Regions from separate parts of the Homo sapiens genome. Here region 2 is linked to region 1. Evidence: fine-mapped expression QTL. Tissue or cell type: monocytes after Pam3CSK4. Region 1 holds a variant in brackets; the other region holds the start of a gene. All regions are shown on one strand. Distances are between the middles of the regions.

The links. PIP is the estimated chance that this variant, and not a neighbour inherited with it, causes the effect.
Region 2: it holds the start of THAP10, and the variant in region 1 is fine-mapped to the expression of THAP10 in monocytes after Pam3CSK4 (Quach 2016, PIP 0.95).

Annotation. Positions count from the first base shown.
Region 1 is chr15:71,109,524-71,117,785 of GRCh38, forward strand. THSD4 (thrombospondin type 1 domain containing 4) reads left to right here and starts at 5,948. Exons shown (of 18, transcript NM_024817.3): 1 at 5,948-6,175. CT62 (cancer/testis associated 62) reads right to left here and starts at 5,981. Exons shown (of 4, transcript NR_168260.1): 1 at 5,401-5,981; 2 at 4,108-4,240; 3 at 2,625-2,771; 4 at 721-1,903. RefSeq lists silencers at 5,762-5,811, 5,848-6,025, 5,872-5,931, 5,962-6,101, 6,252-6,341. The variant A/G (reference allele first, on the strand shown) is at 4,928.
Region 2 is chr15:70,889,373-70,897,372 of GRCh38, forward strand. It overlaps THAP10 (THAP domain containing 10), which reads right to left and starts at 3,061. Exons shown (of 3, transcript NM_020147.4): 1 at 2,472-3,061. The coding sequence starts at 2,900. LRRC49 (leucine rich repeat containing 49) reads left to right here and starts at 3,454. Exons shown (of 16, transcript NM_017691.5): 1 at 3,454-3,570; 2 at 4,212-4,268; 3 at 6,477-6,564. The coding sequence starts at 3,523. RefSeq lists an enhancer at 2,716-3,414.

The DNA.
Region 1 (8,262 bases):
CCCAACAGGTATAATTAGGTTCTTGCCATTCCATAGGGGAGGCGACTGCAGTTTGGAGGTTGGTGACTTCTACGATGGGATGGCCAGAGAGCAATGGCGGTGTAGTGTTTGGGGGACTGACTGCTTTCTTTTATGACACCAAACTGCTGCTCATAAGCAAAAGTGTCCACCATCACACACAGAGTGGTGAAAGGAAACACTAAAAGAGAAAAAAAAAAAAAAGGAACGTGGGACCCAGGAACACTCTGGCAGCACTGTCTGGTGAGCCGCTACAACTAGCACATAGTAGGTGGTCTGTGTGCTGAAGAGAGGCAGGATGAAGGTGAGTGAGGCAAGGCAAAGCCATGAACTTGGAGACCGTGTGACTTTGTCGTTTGTAGTGCCCTGGTTTTATACATAAGCCATATCTGGCCAGTGTTCATTGGATATGCCCTATCTCTGAGATTTTATAAAAATTAATTCATTCAACAAGAAAGCCGGTTTGCTGAAGAGGGAAAATTGCCAACAAGGCCAAGGTGACAGCAATTTCAAGCACAATGTAAGCTGATTAGCCTCAAACAGAGAAGCTGCTTCCTGGCTGAGCTCTCCCACCCTGCTCCAGTTGTCTTGGAGATTTGCAGTCCTGGTCACAAGGGGTACCAGGCGGCAGTGTGAGCAATGGGTGAAGGACAGGACCTCATTATGAGAGTCTCCCAGGAAGGAAAAGGCAGACGCAGGATATTCTTTCAGAATGATGGATTTGCTTAAGTTTGCATTTATTTTTTTCATTACAAGAGAATTGTGGAATGATGCTTTTGCATTACCTTTTTTGAAAAATAAGAAATGTTCTTTTTCTCCCTCTCCCTTTGGAAAAACACAGATCTGATTACGTCAGTCCCTGCTTAAACCCCCTTAGAGGCTTCCTCTTGCTCATTTGAAAATGACAGAACTCATAAAAACGGCCATAAGCATCACTGGCATTGAATGGAATTGCACAGCACTCCTTTCTCAATTGTTAATAAAATGACATACTTCCATATCAGCTGATCAACAGCCACTACGTCAAGCTGTCCCCTACTTCTTCCACCCTGGGAACACTGGGCCTCCCCAAGGCCTCCAGGACAGCAGCGGGCTCCAGGGCCTGCTCTAGCCAGTGTCCTGTATCTGCTCTCTTTTGTGGACTCTGAAGCCACACAGCCCTTCTGCTCCTGGAGAGTCCCCTGCCTTCCTCAGGGTCTTTGCAAAGGTGTTTCCTTCTGTCTAGAACAGTCTCCCACGCTGTCCCCTTTGACTTTGGGTGACTTTTCTCATCCTTCCTTTAGTCGTTCATAGTTGGCTTCAATAAATGAAGGATAGACGGGAAAGTGACTGATCAGCCATGCTTGAGAAGAGGAGGCCCTGGGCGTATGCCGTAGATCTCCATTGTCTAGGCCTAGTTAATCATCGCCGGAAGAAGAAAGGGAGGCTGTGGACTGGAGGCTGCCAGCCCCGCCTTCTCCTTCTGTCTGCATGTCCTAAGGAGAAGCAGCCTCGGATCCGGGTGATGCCTCTTGGCTGTGAGTATTATCATTTGCAAAGAGGAAAAGGGGAAATAATCTGAATATCTGGGATTCCAAAAGTTGTCTTGTACCAGGTAACAAGAACCTTCCTATCTCCTCTGACCAGATGTGGGGTGAGAAAGAGGATGAGAGCAAGTGTGAAGCAGAAAAGGGAAAGAGAAGGAGATAACCTGAAGTGTGGCCTGAAGACTCCCTGACACTTCATGGGAATCCTTGACATTCCGTCTGGAAACCATTTTGCTCATGTCCTCAGAGCTGTGGCTGCAGAATTTTCTCTTGCCCAGTTGTGGGTTACAGGTCAAGTAGAGAGTCAGCCCCAGGCAAGGGCACAGGAACTCAGACTGTAGGTCAGCATTCCAGAGTTCCTGGAGGAGGAAGAAAAAGGACTGGGTTAAGGAGGCAAGCAGGGGAGGGAATCTACCCTGAGATTTTTAGAAACAGCTCAAAATAACAGCAAGTTGACCAACTCTCAAAGTGTTTTGTTTTGTTTACCATGCCTCCCTTATTTTCTTATTATTTGCTGGGCACAGGCTTGCCTTGACTTTACAGTCTGCATAAGTTTACAACCAGGAAAATGAAAGGAACAATTTTACAAGCATCGTGATGGATCCTGGTACCTCCTTCAGAGCTTGAAATTAGGGGTTTGAATGTAGGTCCATTTTCATCCCACTTCCAAATGCTAGCAACGTAGGGAATTATACGGGGGTTTCCTTTCCTGCTGGGACACAATTCTCTGAAGCACAGTTAGGATGAAAACACGAGGTTTGTAAGAGCTGAGAGCAGTGTTTTTCAAAGTGCAATTTTCAGAACTCTAGGCCCAAGAGATGTTTCGCTGGTAAAAGGATTCCACGTCAAATACATTTGGGACACTCTGCATCATCTCTCCCCTCTCAGGCAATCTCAGTGCTTATAAGTAAGAAAACTGTGTTCCCCATAAGTTTCCCCCCAAAGGGTCCAGCTGTCCTGCATTGCCTTCCTGTAATCTGTTCACACGTTGCTCTTATTCCAGTTCCACATGCCCTGAACTCCCAGAAGGTTGCTCTCAGCAGTGAGCCATTCATTCCTCAGAGATTTGGGAGCCCTCACCACGTGCAGACGCTGTGCTGCAGGCTGGGAACCACAGGAGAAATGGCTGAATGTTCTGTGGGTGTGGCTGTAGGCAGAGGGCTGATCAGTGAGGTGGGGTGGTGACAGTCTTCTATAGGATGTCGTATGCATCATTTATCAACTTAACTAGGACAAGAGAATGAAGGGGGGTACTATTAATAATTAATTAATAATTATAATAGGACAACAGGTGTAAGCTAGAGCTGTCTTACATAGACAGAACTGACACATGACAGAAGAGTTATGTTTCTTGTCTGTCCCTTTAGGAGCTGCCTCTAGGGCCAGTGGATAATAATTACAGGGCAAAAGGTTTCAAGTCAAAATTAAAAGGGAATTTCTAACAAAGAGCCTCTAAGAACAATGTGGCTATTTTATGAGGTAGTGAGTAGCTCACCACATCAGATATGCAAAGGGGTGACCCACCCTCCAAGATGCTGTGTATAGCTGACACTGACATGCCAGGCAGGCCCCCAGCCTAGGTAAGCACAGGCTAGCCTTTGACTGTGATCTGAAGCACATATTCTTGGCTCTCTCTTTCGGTGAGGGTCAGTAAGCTATTTTATATGCAAGGACCACATTCTGCTCTTCTGATTCATACGTGACAGACACATTTGGATAAAAGCAGAAATATAACAGGACTGAAAGATTAAAACTTGCTGTCTTAGCATACTTAATATTCACTGATGCTTACACATAATGTAAATATCTCTTTGTTTAAAATGAGTATAGGCTGGTCTCTGTGGCTCACGCCTGTAATCTCAGCACTTTGGGAGGCCAAGAACGGAGGATCACTTGAGCTCAGGAGTTTGAGACCAGCCTGGGCAACACAGCAATACCTCCTTTCTACTAAAAATAAAAAATGAAAAAAAAATTAGTCAAATGTGGTGGCGCACGCCTGTAGTCTCAGCTACCTGGGAGGCCGCAGTGAGAGGATTGCTTGAGCCCAGGAGGTGGAGCCTGCAGTGAGCTGCAATCATGCCACTGCACCCCAGCCTGGGTGACAGAGCAAGACACTCTCTCAAAATAAATAAACAAATAAAACAAGTATTATCTTGACTTTAAAGAAAGAGACTTTCTTGTGACATATAAGCAAAATATGGTCAAAACAATTTGACCAAGGTTGAAAATGGACTGGAATCACTTCTAAGGAGCCAGCCTAGGTCTGTCGAATCAAGTTTGCTCACTAATAATCATACTTTGGTTATGTCGGATGTTAACATTAGAGGAAGAGGGTGGGGGATATAAGGGGATTCTTTGTACTATTTGTGAAACTTGTCTAAAATTATTTCAAAATTAAAAAATAACAAACAAAACCACATCCTTTGCTCCTGAGCCCTGTTCGCCCCAGACATTATGTGATGAACTCACTCCGTTCTTTAAGATCCAGCTCTGCAGAGCATCTCAGATTCCCTGTCCTGAGGCAGGTACTCCTGTATGAGCTCTTAAATACTTCTGCATTTACCTACCACCTACTGGTATGGTTTTCTGACTATATTTCATCTTCTTCGCCTCACGTGGAGTTTCTTTTAGAATGGAAAGTTTTCTTCCTTTCCTCTTTGAATCCTAGCACCAAGGCCACACTCGGCACTGAATACCTGTCTCGAATGAATGAATAAATCAATCTTGTTTGAACAAATCTTATTAGTTTTGCTTTTTTAAAATTATGGTAAAATGTACATAACATAAAAATTTCCATTTTAACCATTTTTAAGTGTATAATTCAGTGACATTAAGTACATTCTAAAGTTGCGCAGGTTTTTTTTTTTAAATCAGTTCTAAATGGTTTAAACTGGCCAGTATTTACTAGAGCTGTTAGATCGACTTAATTTGGACCCATGAGACTCGTGACACTCAGAATTAATCTAATCCCATTTACACCAGGTGCCTCCCATCAAAATCTGTTTGATCAAGTGTGGAATTATTTCATCCCATTGGAACCAGCTCTTGAATCAATCAGAACTGGCTCTGCCAGGCTCCGGGCCAGTAGTCGGTGCTCAAAATGGTGTTTCTTTCTTTGGCCTAATCTCTTGAGTAGCCTCTTTCCCTTTTGTTAATTTTTTTTTTTTTCTGGAGGACAATCTTCCCTGGGAGCTCCCTTCTGCTCCCACGAAGCGCTCTGCACCCAGCCCTGGTGCTGCCTGGCTCTGGGGCAGGGAGCTTGCATTCTGCCACCTCCTTCATTGTCCTCTCGGTATACCTGCACTTTCAAAACAACCCCTGCAGGCAAGCTTTAGAGGCAGCGATAAACAAACAGGCTGACTGAAATTTAGGGAAACGCCTGT[A/G]TCTGGACAGCCTCTTCAAATATTTGTCACCCCCTCCCTGCTCTGGGGAAAGAAGAGACAGTTCCTCACAGTCACTCTATTTCCTGCCTTCCCAGCTCTGAACACCTTGGCTCGAATGTAAAGAATTTGGCTCTGAATTAGGACTCAAGAAACGGGGCCCTAGCAATTTTCCCTCCATTAACTAAACGCGTCACTTTGGTCATGCCCTTTTGGGGGCAATAATTTCCCAATTCGTAAAATGAAGGGATCAAAGTTTGATTTTTATCATTACTAATGAGAAGAATTATTATTTTTTTGCAGCAGGCTTTTTTTTCCCCAACAAAATATTACTCTGAATAAGACAAGAAAGAATCCCGAACGGCTCTGGCCGTCAGGGTGTGTGTGTCTCCTCCCCATGCTGTCTAACCCCCGTTGGAATTTGGAGGGCTCTTGTCCTTTCCCCTTGGCCTCAGAAGGAGCCCAGCGCGTCCTACCTTGCGTGGGAGTGTGTGTGTGACCAGGGCTCCTTCCTGCCCTTAGAGTCACCGCCCCCTTCTCGCACAGGTTTACAGCACCACTTGCCTCGCCCACTCCCCGCTTTGCCTCCGCCCCATCCTGATGCTGCCGGAATGGCTGTTCCAAATGGAAGGATGCCCGCGTCCGTCCCCTGCCCCAGTCCTTCAACAGGTCCCCACAGACCTCAGGATAAGATGAACGCGGAATTCAGGGCCTGGTCTCAACCGCCCTCTCCCTTTTCCTCTCACTTAGACGACCCTGGCCAGCTGGGCCACTCTCCACTCTCGCCCCCTCCCGCCCTCGTGGCCTCTGTCTAGACCGTACTCCCTCCTACTGGGTGATGTCTCTTCCCCTGGGACCCAGGGACCATCCCGTTGTTGACCTCCGGGGTCAGGGGTGCGGATGGGGGCCGGCCCTTCCCGCGGTCGCCGCCAGGGGGCGGCAGGAGCGGCTCCAGATGACAGCGGGAGGCCGCAAGAGGGGAGGGAGGAAGGACCGAGGGAGCGCGGATCCCGCTCTCGGATCGCAAACTCTGAGCCAGAGCTCTCCGCGCGCGCCTGAACCGCTGGCCGCCCGCGCAGCCCGACGCGGAATCGGGGCACAGCGGGAGCCCGTGCAGGGCGGGCGCGGGGCGGCTGGGCGGCGGTGGCGGCCGTCCATGCGGCGGCGCTCGGGGCTGCCCGGCGCCGGGAACCACGCGGGGGCGAGGCGAGGCGAGGCGGCCGCCGGTCGCTCCGGGACGCGGACCGCCAGGTGAGCAGAGCCGCGCGCCCCGCGTCCCCTGCGCGCCGCCCGCGCGGCCCCGACCCGGCTTCCGCTGCCCAGGCTCCGGCTCCCGCTCTCTGGCCGGCGGGGCGGGCTGGCGCGGGCTACCCAGTGGGTGTGTCCGGGGCGCCGCGGGCTGCGCCGCTCCGGGCTCGGGGAGCCAGCGCGCGCCTGGTCCGTGCGGACGGCTGCGCCTCCTTCTCTGGTTCTCTTCCTTGCTGGGAGTCTTGCTCTGTGCTGGCGCCGGCGCTCATCCCTCCACCCTCGACTCTAGGGACAGTCTTAAACTCTAGGGACAATCCACCTCAGTCGTCCCCGGGTCGGGGCCCCGTGCTCCCCGGGTCGGGTCGGAGGGGACCGGCGAGTGCACACCCAGCCCGTGCGCCCCCCACCTCAGCCTCGCCTCCCTCCCGCCTGGGGCCCGAGAGCCGGGCAAGTCTCGGTCAGCGCTCCTTGAGTCCTGGCCTGGGGCCTCGGATCTGTGTGTCTGTCTGTCTCAGTTTAGTTGCTGCAACCCAGCGAGCGCCTGGAGCCCGAGTGGATGGGTTGTTTCCGCCAACTCTGGACACTTCCTCAAGTGCAGCCTAAGTACCTGCGGCCCCTTGGCGCACTTACAGAAGTAGCTTTTGCACAGCGAGCTCACCTTGGAGCTCTACAGATCTGGAAGTTAAGTTTTCTTTTTATTTGAAATAACATCAGCCCTCACTTGGGAAGGGGATTTTAGGGCGTTCTCGGGCCCACCTAAGTATCTGGAATTTGTGGTCTAGTAAGTTTTTTAAGCAGTCCGCACCCAGCACCGTACCTCCCAGCCTCCTTTGCCGTCTTACTAAAAGTGCATGCTTGCTTCTCTTCCTGTCTCCTTTGCGATCTCTACCACGCTGCGCTTCGCCCTTTTCGGGCTATGAGTCTAAAGCTTGGACGTGGGTAGCAATCATTGGATGCCTGTTGGAATTTGGAATTAGAGAAATAGATACCCGAGAGAGATCTAAGGAATCGCCTTGTCCAACCCTCCTTTCACAGTTGGAGGCACCCAGGACCCCTGACAGTCTGAAGATTTTTCAAGGATCACACAGCTTTTAAAATCCGCGTGTCTTCTACTTGATTAATATTGTTGGAGGTGATGGAGTAACTGGGCTTACTAGGGTCTTACTGGGTCTCAATATACAAAGAAGCAAACATTTTAAAAATGTGACTTAAAATACGGAACTCTTCAATTCCTATAGATTTTTGTTGGCATCATAGTTGAATTCCTTTAGAAAACAAAATCCTAGCCCTGAAATTAATGTGAGGAAGCAAGCAGATGGGCGTCCTGGGACTTTCCTATAAATCTCTGCAGGGCTGGAGCAGGGATTTCCCAGAGGTCTGGGCCTGGGAAATGAGTTTGGGTGATCAGGATACTGGAGCCCCTTCTGAATAAGCAACTGGGTTGGTTTCTTGTGGGGAGGCTGGCCAGTGGAACTCATGTGATCTCCTCTGTGCCCAGCACTGGGCGGGGCACCAGCTTGGCATTACCTTCTTTTTAGTCTCCTATGCCATAAAGAAATATTTCTTACTGGCTGTTAGCGAAAGAAAAATACAGCCCAGAGTTTGGGAGGAAGATCAGGGGTGGGGAGATTTTTGACTTGGAGTTTGTTTTTGTTTTTGCCTCGAAAAACTTGTGGAGATTGCAATCAGTTATCCTACACAGAGGCTGTGTATTGCCGTCTTCTCCATCCCCCACATTTCTCTCCATGGTACCACTTTTATCCTAATTGCTGGGAGTCTCAATGTTTAAATGTTCCCAACACTCCCATTCTGTCCCCCACATTTATAGCTCATTCATCGCAAAATCTCTTCCACATTCTTTTGTGATATCTGAGGAATTATTTACCTGTCTCCATTCCCACTGCCCCCACCTTCAACCATGTCCAAATTACAGTAATAATCTCCCCTCTTGACTCCCAGCCACGAGTTGCTTTCTTCATTTTAATCCATCTTCTTTCATGCTGATAGATTAATATTTCTGAAATTCTGATTTCACCACATCATTTCTCTCAAGAAATCACAATGGCTCCCCAGTATTCACTTCTATTTAA
Region 2 (8,000 bases), 220 kb before region 1:
AAAGCAAACTTGGTTACCTTTGAGGAGAGGGGAGGGGCTGGATATGGGGTGATATAGGGACTCCTGGGGTGCTAGCAATGTTCTGTTTCTTTGACTTGGGTTGTGGTTACACATGTTCAGTTTATGATAATTTAATGACTTGTCCACTTAAGATTTGTTCACTTTTCTGTGTATTTGCTATAGTTCAAGTCAACAATTTAAAAAATTCAGTTGGGTTTTTTAAAAAAGAATGCAAAATTAACAGTTAAGGGAAAACAATAAATAAGCCCCTTTCTTTCCTTGGAAGTGGTGTCTTATCTTTTTGGAAGCCCCCTAAAGATATGTAACACTCATATTTATATTGATCCATATATAGCACCAAGCACCCAGAACAGTGTCTACAATAGCTCTTCAATAAATGTTGCAGAATCACTGGAAATCTGATTTTTAGACAGTTAGTCCTGGGATTGGGAAGAAAAACATTGGGTGGGGGAAGAAGTCAGATAGACAAGCCAATTTTTTAGCGATGTGGTTAGGGTTCTTTATCCAGACCAGGCTAAACATTTATTGCTATCAACTCAAAATCTTTTTAACCTTATATACTTTTAAAGTGACTATTTTAGAACTCACAGTTTTCTAGTAATTCAGCAAGTATATTAATGTACTATGGATTGTTATAAATGTTGGCTGGTTATACTTACTAAATGGAAAACAGATTTATTATGTATGCTGGATCTGTTTCCCAACGGTTAGTTTTTATGGGTTATAAAGACTTTGGTTGTTTGACTAGCTTGGCTTTTCTTCTCCCAATTTTTGATTAGGTTGTGTAATTATGAAGAAGAAAAATGGTGTAGGGGGATGTGTGTGGCACATGTTTAGTATTTATCTCTCTTGCTACACACATATATATGTATGTGGATGTATATGTTTGGGCAAAGTTTGTATAGGTGGTGATGGTGGACAGATGGTTCAAGGAAAGGACAGCTATCTTGACAGGTATACAGCTTGGTGAGGAGGGAAACTGGCAGATAATTGAAAATTCAATTATAATGCAAAAATTTGTTCTTATAGTCATGTAATCATTCCATAAATATTTATTGAATTACTTAAATTTGTAAAATATTGTTTTAGGCACTGCAATACAATGGCAAAGAAATCAGACATGATCCTAGCTCTCATGGAGCTTACATTCTAATATGAGAAACAAATATTAAGCAAACTACACAATTATTTCATGGCAATTATGGTAAGTGCTACTGAAGTATCTGTGCTATTGAATCACATGGAGTACACGAAGAATGAGAGTACATAACTAAGGGATCAAGGGGAAAGATGTTTAGCTGATTTTTAAGGGAAAAAGACTTAATTGGCAATGATGGGAGTGGGAGGGGCATAGTTCCAGGATATTATAATACATGCAACAACTGAGCAAAGTCTTGTTGGTAGGAAGTAATATAGTATAGTATGTCCAAGAACTGAAAGGTCAGCATGATGGTACACAGTGAGCAACAGGGACAGTGGCCTTGGTTAGGGCTAGTGTGGTATGCAGGGGGAAAAAACATGCAGGGCCATGTAAATTGGGTTAATAATTTTGCTCTTTATCTTAATAATTGCAAGATGCCATTAAAGGGTCTTAAATACCCACCCCAATGTAGGAAGCAGGTTAGTACTGCAGAAAGAGTGTTGGTCTGGCAACCGGACCTAAGTAAGGATTACAGACCCCTGAGGAAATTACTAACCTCTTGCTATAATTTAATCTGTGTAATGGTGGCAAGGCTGAAGTTTATCACAAGGAAGGCTGGAAAGTTTTCTTTAAAATGGTACGTGGGGAAGAAGGTAGTAGTAACCAGATGCAAAATGAGTGCAAACAATGTTTAGAAGGAACAGAAAAGTAGGCAGAAGAGAGCAAGATGGGGAAAGTCAGCTCACTAGGGATACTGAACTTAAAGGCAGCTGGAGCTAGTTATCAGTCATAAAGGAAGCTTGGGGTGGGAAGGGATTTATTAGCAAGCTCCATCATCTTCATCTGTAGCTCCACATCTCCTTCGCCCCATCATTTGTGACACAAATAAGGGACTTTCCTCAAGCTTATGTAATGTTATGCAACACAGTTTCAAGCACTCCAATCCTGGAGATTTGCTCAAATTAAACCCTTTCTATTTAAAAACTCTGGAGCAGCGAGTGAAAGCAACTCACTACTCTGCAGGACAAGACTCTGTGTGTGTGTGTGTGTGTGTGTGTGTGTGTGTGTGTGTGTGTGTGTGTGTGAGTTTTGGGGGAGGAGCAGTTAGAAGGAATTAACTGGGTCACTTAATTCCAAAGTGTTAATGATAAGTGGGACCTTGGAGATCACCTCTAAAGCACACCCCTAACTTTGCAGATTAGAAAACAGGAACTTTCGAGATGAGGTGCCTTTCCCAAGGTGACACTAAGTGGAGGAGCCCAGCCAGAGTCCAGGGGTCCTTACACAACCTTCGGTGGTCTCTCTTTACCTGTGAAGCTGCAGCCTGCTTCCCAGCTCGGGGGCGTGTACAGGAGACTGGACCTGGGGCAGCCTCAGAATGCCTGGCTGCCTGGAGCTCTCCTCGCGTGTCCAGGCGGCCTGCTTGGTCTCCCTCCTCTCCCCTCTTAGGTGCCGGGGCGGGCACCCGGTGCAGGGTGGGCACGGCGCCTGCCACCAGCCTCAGGCGCTGGGAGAAGCGCAGGTTCTTCTGGATAACCGAAGAGACGTCAAAACAGGCTGGGGCAAAGTGGTCAGAGCAGATGACCGAGCGGTCATTGCCTCCGTACCAGTCGGCGCGGCAACCCCGCACGAAGCGGTCCCAGAGCAGCCGCACGGCCCGGTCCTTGGGAAAGCGGAACAGCGACTTCCCAGACTTGGTGGTGTTGCCGCAGTGGGCGGCCACACAACGGGCCGGCATGGCGGCCGTCTTCGGTGCGCGGGAGCCGGGTTCCCTGGACCTTCGCCCTTGGGCACGCTCCTCGCAGCGGCCTCGGCGAGGCAAGTCCTCCCCTCCTCACCTGTCCACTCCGGGTCGGGATTGTTTCCTTCCCTACCTCTGGTCACCGGAAGTGGCGATCTGGGGCCCCCAATGGGAGGGCTCTTTGATATCTTCCTCCTCCTCCTCCCTGCGCTGCTCCCCAGGAGCCAGTGGACACAAGCAGAGGGATACAAATTTCGCGCGGGCAGCGCTGAGGTGGGCCGTAAAGAGGAACGGACCGGAAGTGGTGGTGGTTATAGCAACCAGTGTGGCCAGCCTCTTCCCCAGCTTATCCTCCTCCCAATACTCCCGCTCTGTTTTTATGAGGCTGGGAAAATAGAACGAGGAAGTGGTGACGCACTGGGCTCTCACGAATACAACTAGAAGCTGCAACGACTGTGTGGCTCTATCGATTCGGGAGAGGTCCAGACCGGAAATGGTCGTTTCCATGGTAACCCTGAGCAGGTTGCCTGGGAGATGACCTCTTTCGGGTCTCTTTGAATCTCCGCTGTAGCGTCACCTGGAAGGCAGATCTAACAGAGAACCTGGACTGTCTCCTATCATGATTCCCGGGAAATATCGCTCTGTTTCTGGCCGGGCTGCGAACAACGTAAGTTGGGCCTTCTACTTTCTCTTTCTTCCCACTGGTACTCTTTCTGACTGGCGTCTTTGTCCTAGGAGATGGGCTGTATTATTAGGACCGGCACCGCTGGGTCTACTCAAGCTATTGTCTGACCAGGGTTTGAGGTTCGTGGGCTGGACCAAGGCACAATTTAATATTGTATGATGGGTACTCAAAGTCTTGTCCAGGATCTGGGCTCCCCAGAAGGTGGAGCTGGTCTGCTGTGAAAGGCTTGGGTTTATTTAAATTCCTTTGGCCAGTCAATTCCTTTTTCTTTTCTTTTCCTTTTAACTGTGAAGAGAATTTATCATTAGGGACTCCCACCTCCTTCACCTGTCTCATTGAGATGTTTATTTAGACCTGAATGGCAAATGTCGAAAGCCTGAGGTACTAACTAGAGGGTTAAATTGCTGCCGACATTTTGGAAAATAAATCAGTGAAACCTTTTAATTCTTAGATGTGATTTTATTGTTTTCAGCAAATCCTCAGAACAAGATCATTTACCAGAAACAGAAATAGAGCATTGTGTTCTATTTTTTTGTTGTATTTCTGTTTGTACCTTTTTTTTTTTTGGAAATATGTGTTTGTGTATTAAGAGCAAATTTTATGGTTTAATTTTTACATTTCAGGTGAACTGCGGGCTTCATCTGGTTATTCAAACATCATCGCTTCCTGAAAAAAACAAAGTAAGATTTAAGAAGGTTGGCATTTAAATTGAAGATTGTTTTAAATTCTACACAAATAGCAGCATGACTTAAAGTGTAGATAGATTCTAAACTGAAAAATTTAAGTAGATTTGCTTTGATTTCCAGTTTAAAGCTAGTTCTTACTTTCTGCCTACATAAAGCTAAAATAGCCCTCTTTAAAAAACTTAATGTGATTTTATTGATTACAAAAGGGTAAGGGTTTTTTTGTTTTTTTTTTTTGACATTTACACTTTTTTTTTTCTTGAGACAGGGTCTAGCTGTATCACCCAGGCTGGGGCGCTGGGGTGCAGTGGCACAATTTTGGCTCACTGCAACCTCTGCCTCCCAGGCTCAAGCGATCCTCCCACCTCAGCCTCCTGAATAGCTGGGACCACAGGTGCATGCCACCACGCCCGGCTAATATTTTTGTATTTTTTGTAGAGACAGGTTTCACCATGTTGCCCAGGCTGTTCTCGAGCTCCTGAGCTGAAGCAATCCGCTTGCTTTGGCCTCCCAAAGTGCTGGGATTACAGGCAACAGCCACCGCACCCAGTGATATTTACACATTTCTGAAATCAGGAGCCTTCTTAAAATTGATGGCATGTCATAGTTTAATTGGGGAGGTTTTTTTTCTTTCTTAATAGAGGGTAAAATAATGGTATGTCTTACTACTAATGACACCTTAGATAAAATGGTAATTGGGAGGGCATATCCACACATCCCATTTAAAATCAGGGAAGAAAAAAATAGGTTAGCAGTGGACACATGTTAGACTTAACGTTATTTAGAAGTTACGATATGAATATGAGATTTTTTTCCCCAAGATTATTTCCCCATAATGTCTCTAGCATTTCTAGAATTTCTGGCTTTTGATTTAATTTTTGAGATTTTGAGATAAACATGTTTTTCTTTCCTTTCTGTCTCACCTCAGCATTTATACTTACCTACTTTCTACACACTATGTCTCAAGACACAACATGATTTTTCCTCCTTTGACCAAGTTGGAAACCTCTAACCATCACAATTCAGGTGTGTCCTAAAAAGTTATTAAATAGGCGTCACTGGAAGAACTCTAAAGTGAAGGGCAGAGTTCACACATAACAGCATGAAGAAGGGTAAGAAAAGGCATGAGGAAGGTAAATGGAAGGACATCGTTAGTCAAGGAGGCAGCTGTTGATTACATTATATATGAATATGAAAATGGTAAACACTCAGAAAATAGACAATTTGATCATCTCAAATAAACAGCAGTTAGATTAATTGAAAATATTATTTATTATAATTGAGCATAATGGATTCTCTCCAGAGCTTTCCTAATTGATTTCTCTGGACAAATCCTTTTCCACCATTATAATGTTTCTAGAGCTGTGTGCCTCATCTAAATATTTTTTCCAAACCATTCACTTTCTCTTGTGTGGACATCTATTCTGAGAAAATACCTTTAGGTCATATAATTCCTAAGGATATAATGCAAATGCCAACATAATGTTTATAGTATGGATACATTAGAAGTATCTTAATTAATTCAAGATACATATTTGGGGTTTTTTGTGGCTAATCATAAGAAGTTGTTCTGGTTTTGTTTTTCTCAGTCCTCCCACCAGATAATTATTTTAGATCAGTTTTAGATCAAGTGAAAACCTTTCTTAGAAGGCTTAAATATACAATTTTATTATATTATAATAGGACATTTAAAAGGATTATAATGATCAAAACAGTGATTTTTTCAACAGCATTTTATTTATATTGTGTGTTTTTTTTTGAAGCAAATGATTCTTTTAATCATTGTATTTGTGGTGAGAGCGTGGAGGGATTGGAAGTGTCTCAGCTTGGAATATCTTGTATCTGACCTCATAAAATTGATCCTGATTTTGTGGGTGGTAAAATACAATGATAGAGGTGCAGCCATCACCTCTATCTAGTTCCAGAATTTTTTCATCATTCCAAATGGAATCCCTGTACCCATTAAGCAGTTACTTCCCATTCCCTGCTTCCCTTAAATGCCTGGAAGCCACAAATATGCTTTCCATCTCTATGGATTTGCCAATGTGGTATTTTGTGTCAGTTTTCTTTCACTTGGCATGATGTTTTCAAGGTTCATCCACATTGTACCATGTGTATCAGTTATTATATGTTTTTTTAATTTATCTTCACTGCTTGGTGTTAAATTTGTCTCCAAATATTTTTTTCTTTAATAATGTTTTTCAGGTTGAATTCAAGCTAAATAAAGACACATCGTCATTCCCCGGTAGACTTTTACAACATGACCTTGAAAGAAACTACTCAAGTAGGCAAGGTATTGTCAGTGAATAGAGATCAGATGTGGTTCATCATCTTTGAATAATATTAAGTGTTTAATAATGTTGAATTACTAGATCCAAATAAACTTGAATTTAAAATGAAATTGTTCATTGGGACCAAATTGGTTTGGTATTTTTTTAAATCATTGGTTATATATATGTAGCATAGTAGATTATTTCCAATACAGAAAAAAGCTGTTATTATTTTACTTTGAGGGTGGGCTATACACTAGAGAATGGAAAAAGAATGTTTCAAATACTGTATTAGAACAGTATTTGGAAGTCGCTAATTAGAGTAAGAGTATGGGAACACAAATATTAAGGAAATCAGGAAAGAATGTAAAGTCAGGAGTAGAGAAGAAACAATCTTTCCCTGTTACTGTCACATATAATTATAGATTTTATATTAAAGGCTTTAAACTCTAGTGTCTATCACTTGGGATCTTGGGATCTTGTTAAAAATGCACATTCTTAGTGCTCCCCCTCCATCTTCCCCATTCTGATTTTGTAGGTCTTGAGCGGGATTTGGAAATGTGCATTTTAATAATGTCACAGGTGATTCTGAGGTATATGGTTTGTGGGTCATCCTTTGACAAATACTGCCTCACATGATCTGGTTATATTTCTGAAATATATTTTTCAAATCAAGGAAAACGTTCCTTCACATTTGAATCTTGGTTTGTTGCTGACAGCCATTAGCTTTCTGTAATGTGCTCATGTTAAACACTTCTGAATCCACATATACAAAACTGCCTCTACCTCTTAGGAGTTTATATGAGAGGGCTGATCAGTATAGGCCTTTCTAGGTTGTTCATGTTATTACTGTGGGAACATATGGCAATTTAAAATATTGGTTAATTTTCTCTCTCTTTTTATTTCTGGACCTACTTCTTGGACCCATCTAATCTGACATATCTTTTCTCTTTCCTACATTCTACACTCTTGTCTTGGCCAATTGCTGGACATGACGTCAGCCTAACTGCAGTTCCACAGTGTGGAAAACATCTGTCTTTGCCTTATTTGATTCAGTTCAATACTTATTTATAAAGCAAGTATTGTGTGCCGATCACTGTTTTAGGTACAGAATTATAGATGTGAAGCCTCAACTAGGGTTTTTATGCTTGCATTGTCAATTTCCTTGACATTTTTGGTAACAATATCTTAAAAGTTTTCCCGAAACCATGAATCAAAATTAAGTACTTTCACTAAGGTTTTCTTGAGTTAGAGTAGGCAGTTAGTAAACAGATTTGAGGACGGCTGGCCAGGCAAACTTATTTAAGTGGTAAAGTATTACTAGATATTCGCTAATGAGGAAATAGTATGGATGTATTGAATTTTGTGAACCTGAGAGATGAATAAAGTTTTATACATAAGTAATGACCCATTCAGTATGAATTAACTCTTTAGGAAAAAAAACCTAATTGGTTTTTCA